Regions from separate parts of the Homo sapiens genome. Here region 2 is linked to region 1. Evidence: fine-mapped expression QTL. A gene starts in region 1. The other region holds a variant in brackets. All regions are shown on one strand. Distances are between the middles of the regions.

Region 1 (8,524 bases):
TTTACTTACTGAAGCCTCTGATGGAGTTGTCCTTGCAGGAGCATAAGGTGAAGAAGGAGGAAGTTGGACTTTGAGGAAACAGTAGGAGAGGTGGAGGGAGATCAGCGGAGGGAGGAGAGGAAAAGGAGGCCCCAGTTCTCAGCCTTCTGCCCTAGATTCTCTGTGCATCCTTTGCATCCTTCTTGTCTTCTCTGCTGAATCAGGTCTATCTCTTAGGGCTCGAGTGCCTAACTCCCTCCTCACTCACCTGCCTGGAGAGTCTTAAGCAGGACAGACTGAGGAGCCTCTGTCTTTTGGCCCCGGAAGAGGATCTTAGATGATGCTCCAGATAGGATGGTGACCCTACCAGGCACGTCTTCTGCTCCAGCCTTATAGCTACTAAGCCTTCCCTGATATTCATTCCAGGCCTGACACCCCCTCCCTGAGCCTCACCACTCCCCCACACTTATCCCATTCCAAAGTCTCACTCTCCATATCTGGTCCCAGCTCCATGTTGAATCTCCCTGTTCCCAACACCTCACTGTGACCCTGACTCTCACTCTCCCTCCTTGTAGATCTCTACCGATTCCTGGCATTCATCCTTCTCTGACCTCATCCCAAGCTGCCACCCCATCCCTGCCCCCATCCCAGCTTTGATTTCAACATCAATCACTGATCCCCATCTGAAGCTTGATCTAGGTCCTGTCTCTGAGCCTCACCCTATTCCCAACCTCAAGCCTTCCCTGATCCTTCCCCACACAGGCTAAACCCACACTCTCAGTTTTGCTTAAGCTAGTTTGACTTCTCTTTCTATCATTTGCCATCAGAAGAGCCCTGACATCTTAAGTCCTCACTTGGGACATTTTTACACAGATAAACATCTAATGAAGCTAAACCACAAAGGCAAACTTAATAAGTGGACAGACGGAGGCTGAAAGCGGAGAGGACAGACAAGAGGAGCTTTGAGCAGATGGTGTGCAAAAGAGTGGTCTTTTCAGCATGCATTCATTCCTGTGATCATTATTTATTGAGCATTTAGTAGGCTCCAGGCACCAAGGACATACAGTGAATAAACCGACAGGGCCCTGTCTCCAAGGAGGGAAAACAGACTAGGAAAAAACTGCAACTCATGGAAAGCATTTGGGGAGGGACTGGTGAGCTCACATAGCTTGAGGCAGGGCTATGCCTAGGCAAGGCCTAACCCAGAAGATGATGCTCACCTCAGGGTGAAGCTGAGACTCCCTGGAGGAGCATTTCCTTTTACTTGTGGACAAAGGGATCTTCCTTGGCCAGGGGTATGGGCATGAACAGGAGTTTCTGTGCCTCAAGAGACTGTTCTAGCAGGAGTTAAAGCCCCAGGGAACACTGCCCTTCAACCCAGAGAGGTGCCTTCTTAGGAGGTGCTGCCCCCATTCTACTGCAGGAACAGCCAACAATGCTGCACACACCCTTGACTCTGTCACAACCAAGATACTTCCACAGGGACAAGCACGGAACAGAAGCTTTATTAGGAACATCTGCCTGCCCAATGGACTGGTGGCTGCACATGGCTTTCTAGGGATGCTGATGCTGCACGCCAGCCTGGAAGCTGCAGAGGGGAAGGGCTAAGGGCTGCTTGTCTCGTTCCACTTGGGGCTCAGCAGGTGGCCAGCACATGTGTCTGCGATGTTGGTCATGGGGGTAAAGGGGGTTCTTGTGGCATAGATCTGGCTTCCAAACCCTCTTTCTCTTTGTTCATCCACCACCCCCAAGGGGAACATGTGTTTCCAGCTCCTCACAAGGCCAGCTGGCAGGTTGATGTTTTGGCAGTGCCTGCCTCAATGTCTCCAGCAGACACTGCAACACACCTGAGATGGGAAAACCACCCCCCTGAGCTCGGATCAGAGCACACAGAGCCACCAGCTTGGTGGCTCAACGCTTAACACTCAGAGTTGAGGAGATGCTCCTGTGAGGGTCAACGAGAGCATCCAGCCCTCATGAGGACACAGCTTCAGCCCTGTTCTCTCATCTAATGTCAGATTCGGGGCTCAGATGTGGCCATGCTAATTAGCCAGTTAGTGGGTTAAAGATGTGACGTTCAACGGGAATGATGGTGCTTCGTTTCCATGGAGGTGCAAAGGCCGGTCCTTGGAGGTACCTCAACAGCTCCTCAGAAGGTTGGTGTGGCCCCTGAAGACACCAGTTCCTAACTTCCCCACATCCTATAGCGTCCCCCCAAAACCCAGATAGTGCCTGTCCAGAGCCAGATCACCTTCCACACACAACCTCAGGGTGTTGGTTATTCTTTCCTTCTGAGAAGAGATATTCCTTCATCGATGGTTTTCAGAGGTTGGAAGAGACATTGACAGACGAAGAAGTGTAGGAGGTAACACGATGACGTGCCAAGAACTCCTTGCTGACCAGGCCATGCATAGCCAGGATCTTGAGGAATCCATGGCGAAAATTTTGGCCGATGAAGGCGTAGATGATGGGGTTGAGGCAGCTATGGAGAAATCCCAGAATCTCAGTGGCATCCAGGGCCCGGCCGATGTTGTTGCGGCGCTCACAGCTCTCCTGGATCACCTGGGTCCTCATGAGGGTGTCTGCCAGCAGGACCAGGTTGTAGGGCAGCCAGCAAAGCAGGAAGATGAGGACGACAGCAAAGATGACCCTCATGGCTCGGTGCTTCTGCCCCATGTGGGCCTTAAACAGTGTACGCAGGGTGAATCCATAGCAGAACAGCATGACAAACAGCGGCACGATGAAGCCAAAGGTGTGAGGCAGGATCCGCAACACCATCCGCCATTTTGCTGTGTCATTTCCCAGGACCTCATAGCAAACTGGACTGGAATTGTTTGGATGGTAAGCCTGGCGGAAAAGGAAGAAGGGCAGGGACAGATTCATAGACAGTCCCCAGCAGCCAAGACAAACAAACTTGACCAAGTGACGCTTCTGGGTCAGTGTGCGTGTGGCATGGACAATGGCCAGGTAACGGTCCACACTGATGCAGGCCAACAGCAGGATGCCACTGTAGAAGTTGACTTCCTTCAGGAGTGAGACCACCTTGCACAGGAATGTGCCAAAAATCCAGCCATTCACCTTGGAGGCGGCCCAGATGGGCAAGGTCAGGGCAAAGAGTAGGTCGGCCAAGGCCAGGTTCAGCAGGTAGACATCAGTGACGGAGCGGCCGACCCTGCTGTATAAGATGACCAGCATCACCAGGGAGTTTCCCAGCAGGCTCAGCAGGAACACTAGGGCATAGGCGATGATCACAACATACTTGTTGAGTGTCTCAGTTTCTAGCATACAGGGGCTGTAATCTTCATCTGCAGGTGGCATGCCAGTGAAATTTAGATCATCAAAATCCCACATCTGTGGATCTGTAATATTTGACATGTCCTCTTCAGTTTCAGCAATGGTTTGATCTAACTGGAAGGTTAGAAGGAAGGAAATGTGATTTAGTAGCTCGGATTCAAGGCATTCTCATCAATGATGTGAGAGCAGTTACTGGGATATCCTTGGCTTCCCTGTTGGTTTGGCAATGAGAGCTCTCCTTCCTCCTTTGACTCCAACCTGGTCTTCTTCGGAGGTTGGCTTCCCAGTGTTCTCCACCTTCCACAACTCTAAGGCCTGGCCTGAGTGTGGGGTAAGATGGAATATGGGGAAAACACCTTAGCCCTAGCTCAACCTACAACTGCCTCCTCTCAGCCTATGTCTCTACCTCTGTCCCTCTTTAGCCTTCTCCATCCTCAGCTGTGTCTGTGCATTTGGATGTGGGGACCAGGTTGGTCTTAGACATTCAGGGAAGGGCCAGCATTAAGCAAAATGCAAGAAGGCAAACCTGTTCCCAGGTGTCCCCTTCTACTATTTCTATTCCTATGTTCTCCCTGATTCTTGTTTACCCTCCTTAAAATCTACTGGGGGAAGGAAGTGATAACAACACATTGCATTAAACTGTATATTTTAAGCCTTCTTTAAATGAGGAGCACATATTTTGTTCCTCTGTCTAAAGGAGTTTTAAGTATTTGAGAAGATAAAGTCTCCATCTTGGTCCCTGAAACCCTCCACCCCTGAAAAAATCCACAGAATCATTCAAGAGTTTTCAAATATATTTCCTATTGTGAAATAGTTTACTGAAATAAGATCTTCCCAGAAGCCCAGTATGTGAAGCAGATAAAAGCTGAGCCACTGTGGGGCAGAGTGTGCTAATCTCCGAACCCAGATGGCCCCTAAAGAGCCCCTCAAAGCTCCAGGACTCTCCAGAGAAGTCTGAAAGCCTTTGGAAAGTCACCGAGGTTGGTTGTAAAGACACCTAGCATCCAGTCTTCATTCCATCCTGATTCTACCATTAATAAGTTTCGTGTGTAATCCCAGCCCTTTGGGAGGCCAAGGCAGGCAGATCATGAAGTCAGGAGTTCGAGACCAGCCTGACCAAAATGATGAAACCCCGTCTCTACTAAAAATACAAAAAAATTAGCTGGGTGTGGTGGCGTGCACCTGTAATCCCAACTACTCAGGAGGCTGAGGCAGGAGAATCACTTGAACCCGGGAAATGGAGGTTGCAGTGAGCCGAGATCGTGCCACAGTACTACAGCCTAGGCGACAGAGTGAGACTCCATCTCAAAATAAATAAATAAATAAATAAATAAGTCTCATGACCTTGAGTGGGGTCTCGTACCCCTATAGATTTCAGTCTTCTCATCTGCAAATCGAGGAAGACAGAATCATCCACCTCTCATTTGCTGCCAGGCCTGAGGGTGTATGATGAGTCCACTCAGATCCACACATTTTAGTGTGTTCCCTCCCTACCAGTATTTGCATTTTCACTGAAGACAAAGTCTTAAGGTGAAGCAATAAACATCAAATTGGGGAATGGTCAGCCTCTTCCCACAAAAGGGCAAGGTATAAAAAGAGGGGATGAGGAGGCTGTCCTCTTCACCTGCTAACTCCATGTATGAGTGGTGGTCACAAGAGAGGAAGCGGGCAGCAGAAATCCTCAGCTCCCACAGAAATGAATACATTTTCCAAAATAAAGTCAAGCCAAGCAGCCCTACCCCACAGAAAGTCCTAGCAAACAGAGGTGGCTTCCTACCTGAAGCACCGGCCAGGTGTGTCCAACAGTAGGAGCTGCAGTCAGAGATCAGAGTGACTTAACAGCTAGAGGGCACTTGATGAATAAACGGAAATAAGGAAACCACATCAGATGACACCTCCCTTCTGAGCCCCACCCATGTCTACATTTGGGGAAGAACAGTTTAAGTCAAGGGATCACAGACTTGTGATTAGAGACTGCCAGGGTCCATATGACCAAGTGGGGGTCCCAGGTGTGAAGCTGGGGTTGAGGGTCCATTATCTGAATTCTCCACTCTATGGATGATCATTTTTATTATTTTCCTTTTCTTGAATTTATTTCCATTTGTTTATTCCTAAATTCCCTAGTATATCACCTGTGGAAGCTTGCAACTTCCTGACCAAGTATAAAGGGCGAAGGATTTGACTTACAGCAGAGACTTCAGAAGGAGTCCCCCATAGGAGGGACTTGGGGGCAATCCAGTGGGAAAGAGGAGGAGGACTGCGCTTGAGTTGTGTTTGAACAGCAGGCACTCAATCTCTACTTATTTTGCAGGCTTCTTTGAGGTGGCCTAGCTCGGATTCAAGGCATTCTCATCAAGGATGTGAGAGCAGTTACTGGGATATCCTTGGCTTCCCTGTTGGTTTGCCAACGAGAGCTCCCCTTCCTCCTTTGCCTCCAACCTGGTCTTCTTTGGAGGTTGGCTTCCCAGTGTTCTCCACCTTCCACAACTCCAAGGCCTGGCCTCAATCTCTACTTATTTTTCAGGCTTTTTGAGGGTATTTGAATGGAACACAAACCCTCCTTTGCCGCCAGCCACTCTTTCGCACAATCACTGCCAATGACCAGTTGGTTTAAATGGCCCTGAGGCTGACGGCATAGGCCACTCCCAGAGTCTGGCTGGTTAGCAGAGAGACCACAGAGCTGGGGCAGTCCATGAATGGAAGAGCTGTGGTCAAGGTCACTGCAGCCCCCATCTCAGTAACGGAGAATGGCTTCTCTGGGAACCCACCTTAGCTGCCTCCAGCAGCTAATGGCTGTCCCCTAGCTTGAGTCTTCTGGCACCTTCGTCACTTCTCCATATAACATGAACCCTGCTGTGAGGCATTTACAAGTCAGCCCTCTTCTAGCTTGGGAGCCATGAGACAGCAAGAACCTTCTTCAATTCATGTTTATGTTCTCTTTCAGGGAATATAGTAGGTGCTCAATCAATGGTTGTGGAATAAATGAAGGGAGACATTTCTCCTGTGATTCATGGACCATAAGTCACCACCACGATTCAGTGTCTATTGCTTTTGGCTACACACTAAAGTCACTGGTATGCCTGATAGCTTCACTTCCACACAGCCCAGTTGGTCTGCCTGGCATTGCTTCTTTCCAACCTTCCTCTAATGTTTGGAGCTAATGCCAGTCTGTGCAAGTATAAATCCTGCCCTACCACAAATGCCAAATTTACCATGCCATGGATTCCTACAGTTCTGCACTGGAAAGAATTTTTTTCTTTTTTTAAGAGACAGGCTCTCACTGTGTTGCCAAGGCTAGAATGCAGTGGTGTGATCATAGCTCAGTGTAACCTCAAATGCCTGGGCTCAAGCAATCCTCCCACCTCAACCTCCTGAATAGCTGGGACTACAGGCAAGAGCCACTACATCTGGCTTTCTTTTTTTATATTATATTTTTATTTTTATTTTTTATTTAGTTATTTATTTATTTGTAGAGAAAGGGTCCTGATATACTGCCCAGGCTTATCTTGAACTCCTAGCCTCTAGTGATCCTCCTGCCTTTGCCTCCCAAAGCACTGGGATTACAGGCATAAGCCACCATGCCCAGCCGGCAAGCCTATTTTTTAAGCTAAGTTGTGCTTTCCTCCTGGGCTCTTTTATCATTCATAGATGGTAACAGGAAGTGTAAGGGGACAATAGCCACTCATGCTTTGCTTTTACTGATGTTGGACTATTGTGCTCTAACGCCTAGACTAGAAAGGAGTCAAAGATGGGGTAGTCCCAGGAGGTGGGAGACTCCCTCTATTAATCATCTAGGGAAAATCAGCCCCAAGGGCAGAAAATAGTCACTGGGGACACAGGAGAAAAAAGACGGGGGCCTAGACTGCAAAACACCTGCCTATACTCAAGAAAGACCCTGAGGCCGGGAGAAGGATAGTTTTTGCCACAAGGGGGCAGCAGTTGCTAGACAGGGAATCCCCTGTGAGACACCCCCTTGAGAAAGACCAGGGCCAAGAGCAGGTATATTTAACACCGTATGTTAAGTTCTTCTTGGTGTATAGTTCCCTTCTGCTTTTCCTAAACCCTCAGTAAGTCGGTTCACTATTCCAGTCTATTTCAAGGAATCACTGAGGGGTTAGGGAAGAGGCTGGTCTCCTGGAGCCCGAGGAGTGAAGGGGAGCAGCCCTGCTGCATGAGTGTGGTGAGGGCAACAGCAATGCTGGGGTCTCCAGGAGAAGTTGCATCTGGAGGACAAGGGTGGAAAGAACCTTTCACTTCGCAGTAGGACGAGCATTTCACTGAAGGAGGGAGAAAGCACATATAGATGAGTTTAGAATAAAATTTTACCCACTTCAAAATGTTCCAGCAAGTCAGCCCACCCAACCTATCTTCTATACCTCACTTCCCACTTATAACTGTGCCCTCTTAAAATGGCCTAGAATGTTCCTGCTGAGAAGCATTTTTCCATTCCATGTAGAGCTCCTAATGCCACAAAGAAAGCTGTGACAGGTGCAGCCCGAATGCCAGTCAACTGGCAAAATGTAGTATCTCTTTGGGTGACATCTTCTTACCACTCTGTTTTAAACATGATGACTTCTGCACAGACCATGTGAACAGCACAATGTGGCTGTAAGAACATCTATTTTGTCCCTGCATCAGCCTTATGCCAGCTTCAGCATCTCTTCTCATTCCTCCAGAAGAATCCACTTGGATCTGGGATCAAAGTAGAGGAAAGGGGTAGAGGGAGGTTTCTCCTCTCTCCCCAGTGACGTCCTCGTAACCACAGCAACAGGCTCAGGGAGTGAGTCTGTGACCCAAGATGATCCAGTCAGAGCAAAGTTCAGATGTTTGCTCAATGAATGTGGAAAAGCAAGTATATAGTCTTGTTGCAGTCAGCAGCCATTTTGCTACCATAAATGGCAAAAACAGTCCAAGGAAAAAACCAACACACAGAAGAAGGCAGAGTTGAGAGAATCAGAGAAACAGACCAAGAGTCCTGAACAAACCATGCCCAGAGGCCATCTTCTCTCTGTACTTTCTTCGGTTCCATGAGCCAATAAATTGTCTTTATTGTTAAGACCAGTTTAAGTTGACTTTTCTGTTACCAGCAACCAAAACATGCCCAACTGTGAGAGTTCTGGAAACCAAATGTGGTCTAGGATGAGAGGAGCAGGGAGTAGTGTCAGTGAGACACTGGGTCAAGGCTGCAGTGGTAAAGATACAGGGGCATTGACAGACACGTGACCTAGCCAGGTGCAGACCTCCCAGCCCT
Region 2 (8,000 bases), 40 kb before region 1:
AGAGTGAGCAGCAGCAAGATTTATTGTGAAGAGTGAGAAAACAAAGCTTCCACAGCATGGAAAGGGACCCGAGCAGGTTGCCGCTGCTGGCTCAGGTGGCCAGTTTTTATTTCCTTATTTGGCCCTGCCCATGTCCTGCTGATTGGTCCATTTTACAGAGTGCTGGTTGGTCCATTTTTACAGAGTGCTGATTGGTGCATTTACAAACCTTTAGCTAGACACAGAGCACTGATTGCTGTGTTTACAATCCTTTAGTTAGACAGAAAAGTTCTCCAAGTCCCCACCCGACCCAAAAATCCAGCTGGCTTCACCTCTCAATGTGAGTTAGTGTTCTATTCATCATATTAGTTGTTACCTAGATACTTTGTTTTTTTCATTGTGTTATTGTTTTATAGGCCCTGTGAGATTTATGCTTTAAGGAAGTTCTAATTTGGTGCACATAAAGCTTTTGTTTAAATATTTAAAACTCTTTTTAGCATTTCTGATAATGCTGGTTTAGTAGTGGCAATTTCTCTCAGCATTTGTTTGTCTGAAAAAAGACTTTATCTCTCCTTCATTTATGAAGCTTAGTTTTGCTGGATACAAAATTCTTGGCTGACAATTATTTTGTTTAAGGAAGGTAAAGATAGGACCCCAATCCCTTCTGGCTTGCAAGGTTTCTGTGAGAAATCTGCTGTTAGTCTGACAGGTTTTCCTTTATAGGTTACCTGATGTTTTTGTCACACAGTTCTTAAAATTCTTTCCTTCTTGTTGACTTCAGATAACCTAATGACTATGTGGCTAGGTGATAATCTTTTTGTAATGAATTTCCCAGAAGTTCTTTGAGCTTCTTATATTTGGGTATCTAGATCTCTAGCAAGGTCAGGGAAGCTTTCCTCAATTATTCCCTCAAACACGTTTTTCAAACTTTTAGACTTATCTTCTCCCTCAGGAATACCAATTATTCTCAAGTTTGGCTGTTTTACATAATTTTATATTTCTTGGGGACTTTGTTCATTTCTTTTGGTCTTTTTTTTTTATCTTTGTCTGATTGGGTTAATTCAAATGCCTTGTCTTTAAGCTCTGAAATTTTTTCTTCTAATTGTTCTAGTCTATTGTTGAAACTTTCCACCACATTTTGTATTCCCTAAGTATGCTTTCATTTCCAGAAGTTTTGATTAGTTTTTCTTTACGATATATACCCTCCAGAAATTTTTTCATTCATATCCTGAATTGGTTTTTTTAAATTTCTTTATGTTGGTTTTTACTTTTCTCTGGTATCTCCTTAAGTAATTAATGATCAACCTTCTGGGCCGGGCACAGTGGTTCACATCTGCAATCCCAGCATTGTGGGAGGCCGAGGCAGGCAGATCATTTCAGGCCAGGAGTTCGAGACCAGCCTGGTCAACATGGTGAAACCCCATCTCTACTAAAAATACAAAAATTAGTTGGGCATGGTGTCACATGCCTGTAATCCCAGCTATTCAGGAGGCTGAGGCAGGAGAATCACTTGGGCCCGGGAGGCAGAAGTTGCAGTGAGCCGAGATCACACCATTGCACTCTAGCCTGAGCAACAAGAGTGAAAATCTGTCCCAAAATATTATTAATAATAATAATAACAATAATAATAATAATAATAATCAACCTTCTGAATTCTTTGTCTGGTATTACAAAAATTTCATCTTGGTTTGGATTTATTGCTGGAAAGTTAGTGTGATCTTTTGGGGGTGTTACAGAACCCTGTTTTGTCATATTGCCAGAATTACTTTTCTGGTTCCTTCTCATTTGGGTAGACTATTTCTTCAAGTTATTCTTGAATTTATTTTTGATTTGACTTTTTTTTTTTTTTTGAGATGGAGTTTCGCTCTTGTTACCCAGGCTGGAGTGCAATGTCTGATCTCGGCTCACTGTGACCTCCACCTCCCCGATTCGAGTGATTCTCCTGTCTCAGCCTCCCGAGTAGCTGGGATTACAGGCATGTACCAGCACACCCGGCTAATTTTGTATTTTTAGTAGAGACAGGATTTCTCCATGTTGGTCAATCTGGTCTTGAACTCCTGACCTTAGGTGATCTGCCAGCCTCAGCTTCCCAAAATGCTGGGATTACAGGCGTGAGCCACCACGCCCAGCAACTATGTTTTTTTTTTATTTCTTTTTCTTCCCTCTTAAGGATCTGACTTTAATATTTATAGTTTATTTTAGCCTAATTTGATCCTTGGTTTTTAGGAGTGAAGACTTTTGGATTTTAGGAGTGAAGACTCTGTATGAGTTCGTTAGTTAGAGACAGTCCTTGTGTGCTGGCTTTCCCAGATCCTGGTTGTAGCAGTTACGTACTTGGTGTGTGGGAAGGTTTACTGTCTCCTACAGGGTTGGAATGGCAGGAATCTCTTTAAGCTTACCTCATTCTCTCGTGGGGTACTCTTTATTTATTTATTTAATTTTTCCCCAGTATTTTACTTACTGAGTTGATTCAGGCTTTGGACCAGTAGGGGAAGTATCCCTGGGTAGGCACCAGATGTAGCTAAAGTAGGTGGGTAGGCACCGGTTGTAGCTAAAGCAGGTGGGCAGAGATCCCAGCCTTGATGAGAGTGCCTGGGAGAGCTCTCAATTAGATGTGCTGAGGTTTTGTCAGGGTGAAGGGTAGGAGCTACCTCAGGTCCCCCACTAGGCCAGCTGGAAAGCTATCCACCTCCCAGCTTCACTCCTTTCCCAGTGTTCCAGCTATTCAGATCAGACAGGCAGTTATTTTCATCTGTAGAAATGTTGATGTTCCAAGTAGAGAGGAATTGTGACTGCCTGTCATGCAAACCTGAATCTGGGGAGTGCTCCTCCCGTGGGGATGCAATCACCCTGATTTGTTCCAGGAAGGCTGTCTATAGGTGCATCAATGCTGCGTTCCTTTGGGAGAAGCCCCAGCTCTGTCTGCAGTGGCGTACCAGGGGGAACAAGGATCCCTTCTCTAAGACCCTTCACAATACCAGAGGCTGCCTGCCTATTGGGTAGAGGTGCAAACTTTCCCCCACTCTGCCCAGCACAGCAATTGTCTCTGCAATAGGAAACTTCCCACCAGTGAAAAGATCTGGGACTCAAGCCCTGCCATTCAGATTCTTTTGTTCCACAGGGTATTCCCTTGATGTGATGTTCTTCCCCTTCCTCTAGGAATGGGACTTCCTGGAAGCCAGACTACAGTGCTCTTCTGGGTCTAGCCACCCAGTGGGCCTACCAGACTCTGGGCTGGTGCTAGGGAATGTCTGCAAGGGATCCAGTGGTGTTACCTGTCTTCAAGACTCCCAGCAGTGAATACCAGCACCATCTCTGACAGAAGTGGGAGGGGAGTGATGCAAACTCTGCAAGATTCCTTGGTTGTAGATAGACTTAGAGTATTGACTTTCTCAAATGCTGGTTATAATTATAGTGAACTTATCACGTGGACAGACGCAGGACTTCTGGTTAGCCAGGGTGTTGTAAGCAGTGGTGATAGCTGAGAATATGCAGCCGTTTTCTCCTTCCTGGGTACAGTGCTATTCTGCCTAGAGGTGAGTTTTTGCCTGTCTCACAGAGTAGGCTGCAGCCTGCCACTTCTTTCAAAAGTTCTGTGGATTCTTTCAGCTTTCCTGTTCAGTTCCTGCATTCGTTCCTGGAGAAAAAAAAATTATAGTGTGAATCTCTACACGCTATTCTGTCCTTCCAGATGGGAGAGGCATGCTAATGCTGCCTCCAATCTGTTGTCTTGGGGGGAAAGAAAGCAATTTGTTTTTGTTTTTTTTTTTAATGGATTTGCTGGGTTTAGTAACCCAGAGGTCATTGGGAACCTTGGCGAAAGTTATTTCAGTGGAGCAGTAGGAAGGAAGCCAGTTGCAGTGTCTTTGTTGAGCAGCAGAGGGGAGGTGAGGAAGTGGAGAGAGCAGCTGTGGTGGCTGAAGGGTGCTAGGACAGAGGGAGCATGATAAAGCCATAAGTAAGATGTGGTAGAAGGGAAAGAGCCAGGACAGAGGGGAGAGAAAGCAGGATCCTCAAGGACCAGAGAGGCAGTGGGTCCCACAGTCAGGTGCGGGGATTCAACAGAAACAGAAGGAGGGACGCTTCTCACTCTGACCCCGGAAAGAAGGAAGAAACTGCGTGCGAGTTCAGACAAGTCCGTTGGCGGGGGCTGGGATGCCTGCATCTTCCTTGTTAAAAAAGGAAGTGCAGGTTCAAAACATTCAGAGACAGAAGGTGGATAGACAAATCTCCACCTTCAGACTGGTAGGCTCCTCCAGAAGCCATCAGACAGGAAGATGTGAAAATCCCCAGCACTCATCCCAGAATCACTAAGTGGCACCTGTCCTGGGCCAAAGTCCCAGGACAGACCTCATTGTTCCTCTGTGGGAATACCTCCCCAGGAGGGCATCCTGGATTTCCCCCTTGCAACCCAGGTCAGAAGTTTCATCGTCAAGGTTGTTTCATCTTTTTTTTCCTGTCTAACAGCTCTGACTACCACCCAACCTTGAGGCACAGTGAAGACATCGGTGGCCACTCCAATAACAGCAGGTAGGTGACTTGTTCAGTCTGAGATGCTGGCAACATATTTCTAATGGAAGAGATCTGGAAACTTCAGCCTCCTCTGAGGCCCCTGAGAACTGGGGTGATGAAGTGTAGAAGCTTAGAGCTAAAGACAACTAAGTCTTCACCTAGACAGTGTTGCACAAAAGAATTTTCTGCAATAATAGAAATGTCCTAGACCTGCCCTGCCCAGTATGGTAGCCACTAGTCACACGTGGCCACGGAGCACTTGAAATGTGACTAGTGTGACTGCGGATCTCAATTTTTATTTCATTTTATTTTATTTTATTTTTTCTTTTTTGAGACAGGCTCTCACTCCAATGCCCAGGCTGGAGTGCTGTGGCATGATCTTGGCTCATTGCAACCTCAACCTACAGGTCTAGGTGATTCTCCCACCTCAGCCTCCCAAGTAGCTGCAGCTACAGGCATGTGCCGCTACACTCAGCTAATTTTTTGGG[T/TTTTG]TTTGTTTGTTTGTTTGTTTTGTTTTTGTTTTTGTAAAGACAGGGTTTCGTCATGTTGCCCAGGCTGATCTCAAACTCCTGGGCTCAAGCGATCCGCCCACCTCGGCCTCCCAAAGTGCTGGGATTACAGGCATGGGCCACCTTGCCTGGCCTTTATTTTAATTAATTTTAATTTAAATAGCTACACATGGCTAGTAGCTAGCATGCTGAACAGAATAGAATTAGAAGAAGCTCCCGTTTTCCAAAGGCACACAACAAGGCCCAGAAAGAATGACTTCTCCAAGCAGGATTAGAAGCCAGGTTTTTGTTTTGTTTTTGTTTGAGACAGGGTTTTGCTCTGTCGCCCAGGCTGGAATGCAATGGCACAATCTCGGCTCACTGCAACTTCTGCCTCCCGAGTTCAAGCAATTCTTATGCCTCAGCCTCTGGAGTAGCTGGGATTACAGGCGTGCGCTGCCACGCCTGGCTAATTTTTGCATTTTTAATAGAGGCGGGGTTTCACCATGTTGGCCAGGCTGTTCTGTAACTCCTGGCCTCGAGTGATCCACTCACCTCAGCCTCCCAAAGTGCTGGGATTACAGGCATGAGCCACCGCACCAGAAGCCAGTTTTTTAATTCACTCCACCCTGCATATAACCGCAGTGATCTCCATGGAAATGAAATTGACCTAAGGAGCATGAAGAAGGAGGCTGACTGGGAAATGTCAAATCTGGGCTCCCCTCTCTACATCCTTTGTATCTGACTTTCTGGGACACAGGGAGGTACCTAATGGAGCTCAGAAACTTTAGGCTGGGATCCTGCTCCTTATTACAGTGAACAGGAGATAGGATTTGAGAGCAGATTTTTAGAAGTTTTTTAAACTGAAAACCTAGTTCAGCTGTGTCACTCTAGGTATGTTGCTTAACCTCTCAGAGTCTTCATTTCCTCTTCCAGAAAGTGCCTGCTTCGTGAGGTTATCCTGAGGATTAATTGATACAAATTCTGGAAAGCACTTTGCCCAGAAGCTAGAACCTGGTAGACACTCAACATTACAGCTAATATGACAATTAATATCCAGGTCAAAGTAAATTAGATGTCATCAAAGTCAGCCTTGAAAGCAGACCCACTGCCGACTGCTTTCCCTTGACTGGGGATGTAGTGAGAGAGGCAGCATGTTATCAGTGAATAAACTATTCCAGTAATAATGATCACAACAATAAAGGTTAACATTGTACTTTATGTATGTTTTACGTGATTTACAAGCAATCCCTCATTTCATCCTCACCACAACCCCATGAGTTGGATTCTGTATTGGCCCCATTTTACAGATGAGTAAACTGAGACTCAGAAAGGAAAAGTCACTTGCCCAGAATTGCTCAGCTAGCCCTGGTGTCATCTGCCTCTCTCCATATGTAATAAGCCTCTATCTGGTTTTAGCATCAACTGGCCAGGTGGCATTGCATTCTTCCCCAGCTTGGGAAAGAGAGGTGACAAAGACTAAGAAACATTTGCTGAACAGTTGGACTCAAAGATTCTTTCTTTGGGGTAGGCAGGCAATTTAAGTGCGTCTGCCACAGGGATTGAGTCCCCTCTGGGCCCTGGGATGCATGGAGCAAGAGATAGGGTAAGGAATAATGGAGGGGATTGAGGTGTTGTTCACTGGGGTGGGCACTTGTGAGACAGCAGAATTAGTGTTCATGGCTCTGCCTGGATTAATTCATTCATTTGTAATCAATAGCAAATTGATAAAATACATTCTTAGGGTCACTTAACATTGTTTTTAAAAATGCATTTGGACTTTGGTGGAATCTTCCCTTTTACCAAAAGGCTTTCTTTCCAAATTAGAGGGTCTTGGCTCCAAGGGTGGTAAGCTGCTGCAGAGTTGGTGTCCTCAGACCCAATGCCAAGTGTGCGAAACAAGAAAGAATATCAATACCCAGAGATGGACTTGTGGTCAGAGCAGATGGTTGGGGAGTGAGGGGAAAGACAAGAGGCAGGAGTGGGGCCAAGAAGTAGAGGCATCAGGTCCAGGGAGGAACGCCACCAGACTCACCAGAAGCTTTAGTCCATCTCTGTCATTTTAATGCACTGCTCCCTTTGACATGTGAAAGACATTGAAGGCTATAGTACTGCCAATGGTATGATGGGGAAGCCTGAGGCAGCTGGAATGCCAGGAGACTCAGACAAGGCAGCTGAAGGAGCCAGCGGCTCTGAGATACAGCAAAGATGAAAGAAATCCATGCAATCCTGGGCAAGCCATTTCCTTTGGGCTTCAGTTTCCCCATCTGTAAAATGGAAAGACTAGGTAGAAAACCCCTCAGGTCCCTTCCCAATATAAACTCTACGAGTCTATGAAATGACTATGCATCCGAGAGCTGATCTGGGAACTAATTATTCAAAGTTATCAAAATCACCCGCACCCTCAGGAGCTCCACCCCTGAATTGCATTGAGCAATCTAATCTACCACTCACTTCCTCCACTGTGTTCTCACCACCACCTCCCTTTCATAGGTCACAGCTGCTCTTCTGGAGGTGTCCTACAGGTGAAAAGCCCAGCGACCCAGTAAGTCTTGGAACACCCACCCTTCCCACCAGCTAGAATGTCTCTGTTCTCTGTTTCCCTTGATACCCAGCCTACATTTATCCTAAGCATCTCTCCCCACCCTTGGTGGGCCCCTCACCCTCACCCCTTGGCCTCTTCATTTTCTCCCTTTGGGGCTCTCCATCCCCAAAGGAAGAACTTCTGTTCCTCCTCCCTCACAACCCTCTCCAACCACTCAGGGCCACTTGCTGCCCATGCTTTTCCCTTGGCCTGGCAGCCTTCCAAGACTCAGCCAGCCCTCCTGGCCTGGGCTAGGACTGGGTCTGAGGATGGGCCGAACACTGTTCGCTTCCCACTTCCCGACACTAAATGCAATATTTGTGGATTATATTTATAGAGAGAAAGAATACTGGAACTGTACTAAAATGACTCTTTTGTTGTTAAAAAGATTGCCTTAGATGTTTGAGATCTTGTAAATGTCTCTCGTTCTATAGCATTTT

Evidence for each region. PIP is the estimated chance that this variant, and not a neighbour inherited with it, causes the effect.
Region 2: its variant is fine-mapped to the expression of CXCR1 in whole blood (INTERVAL, PIP above 0.99).

Annotation. Positions count from the first base shown.
Region 1 is chr2:218,161,858-218,170,381 of GRCh38, forward strand. CXCR1 (C-X-C motif chemokine receptor 1) reads right to left here and starts at 5,105. Exons shown (of 2, transcript NM_000634.3): 1 at 5,051-5,105; 2 at 984-3,387. The coding sequence starts at 3,354. The coding sequence ends at 2,302.
Region 2 is chr2:218,121,845-218,129,844 of GRCh38, forward strand. It overlaps CXCR2 (C-X-C motif chemokine receptor 2), which reads left to right and starts at 4,184. Exons shown (of 3, transcript NM_001557.4): 1 at 4,184-4,509; 2 at 7,470-7,521. The variant T/TTTTG (reference allele first, on the strand shown) is at 4,980.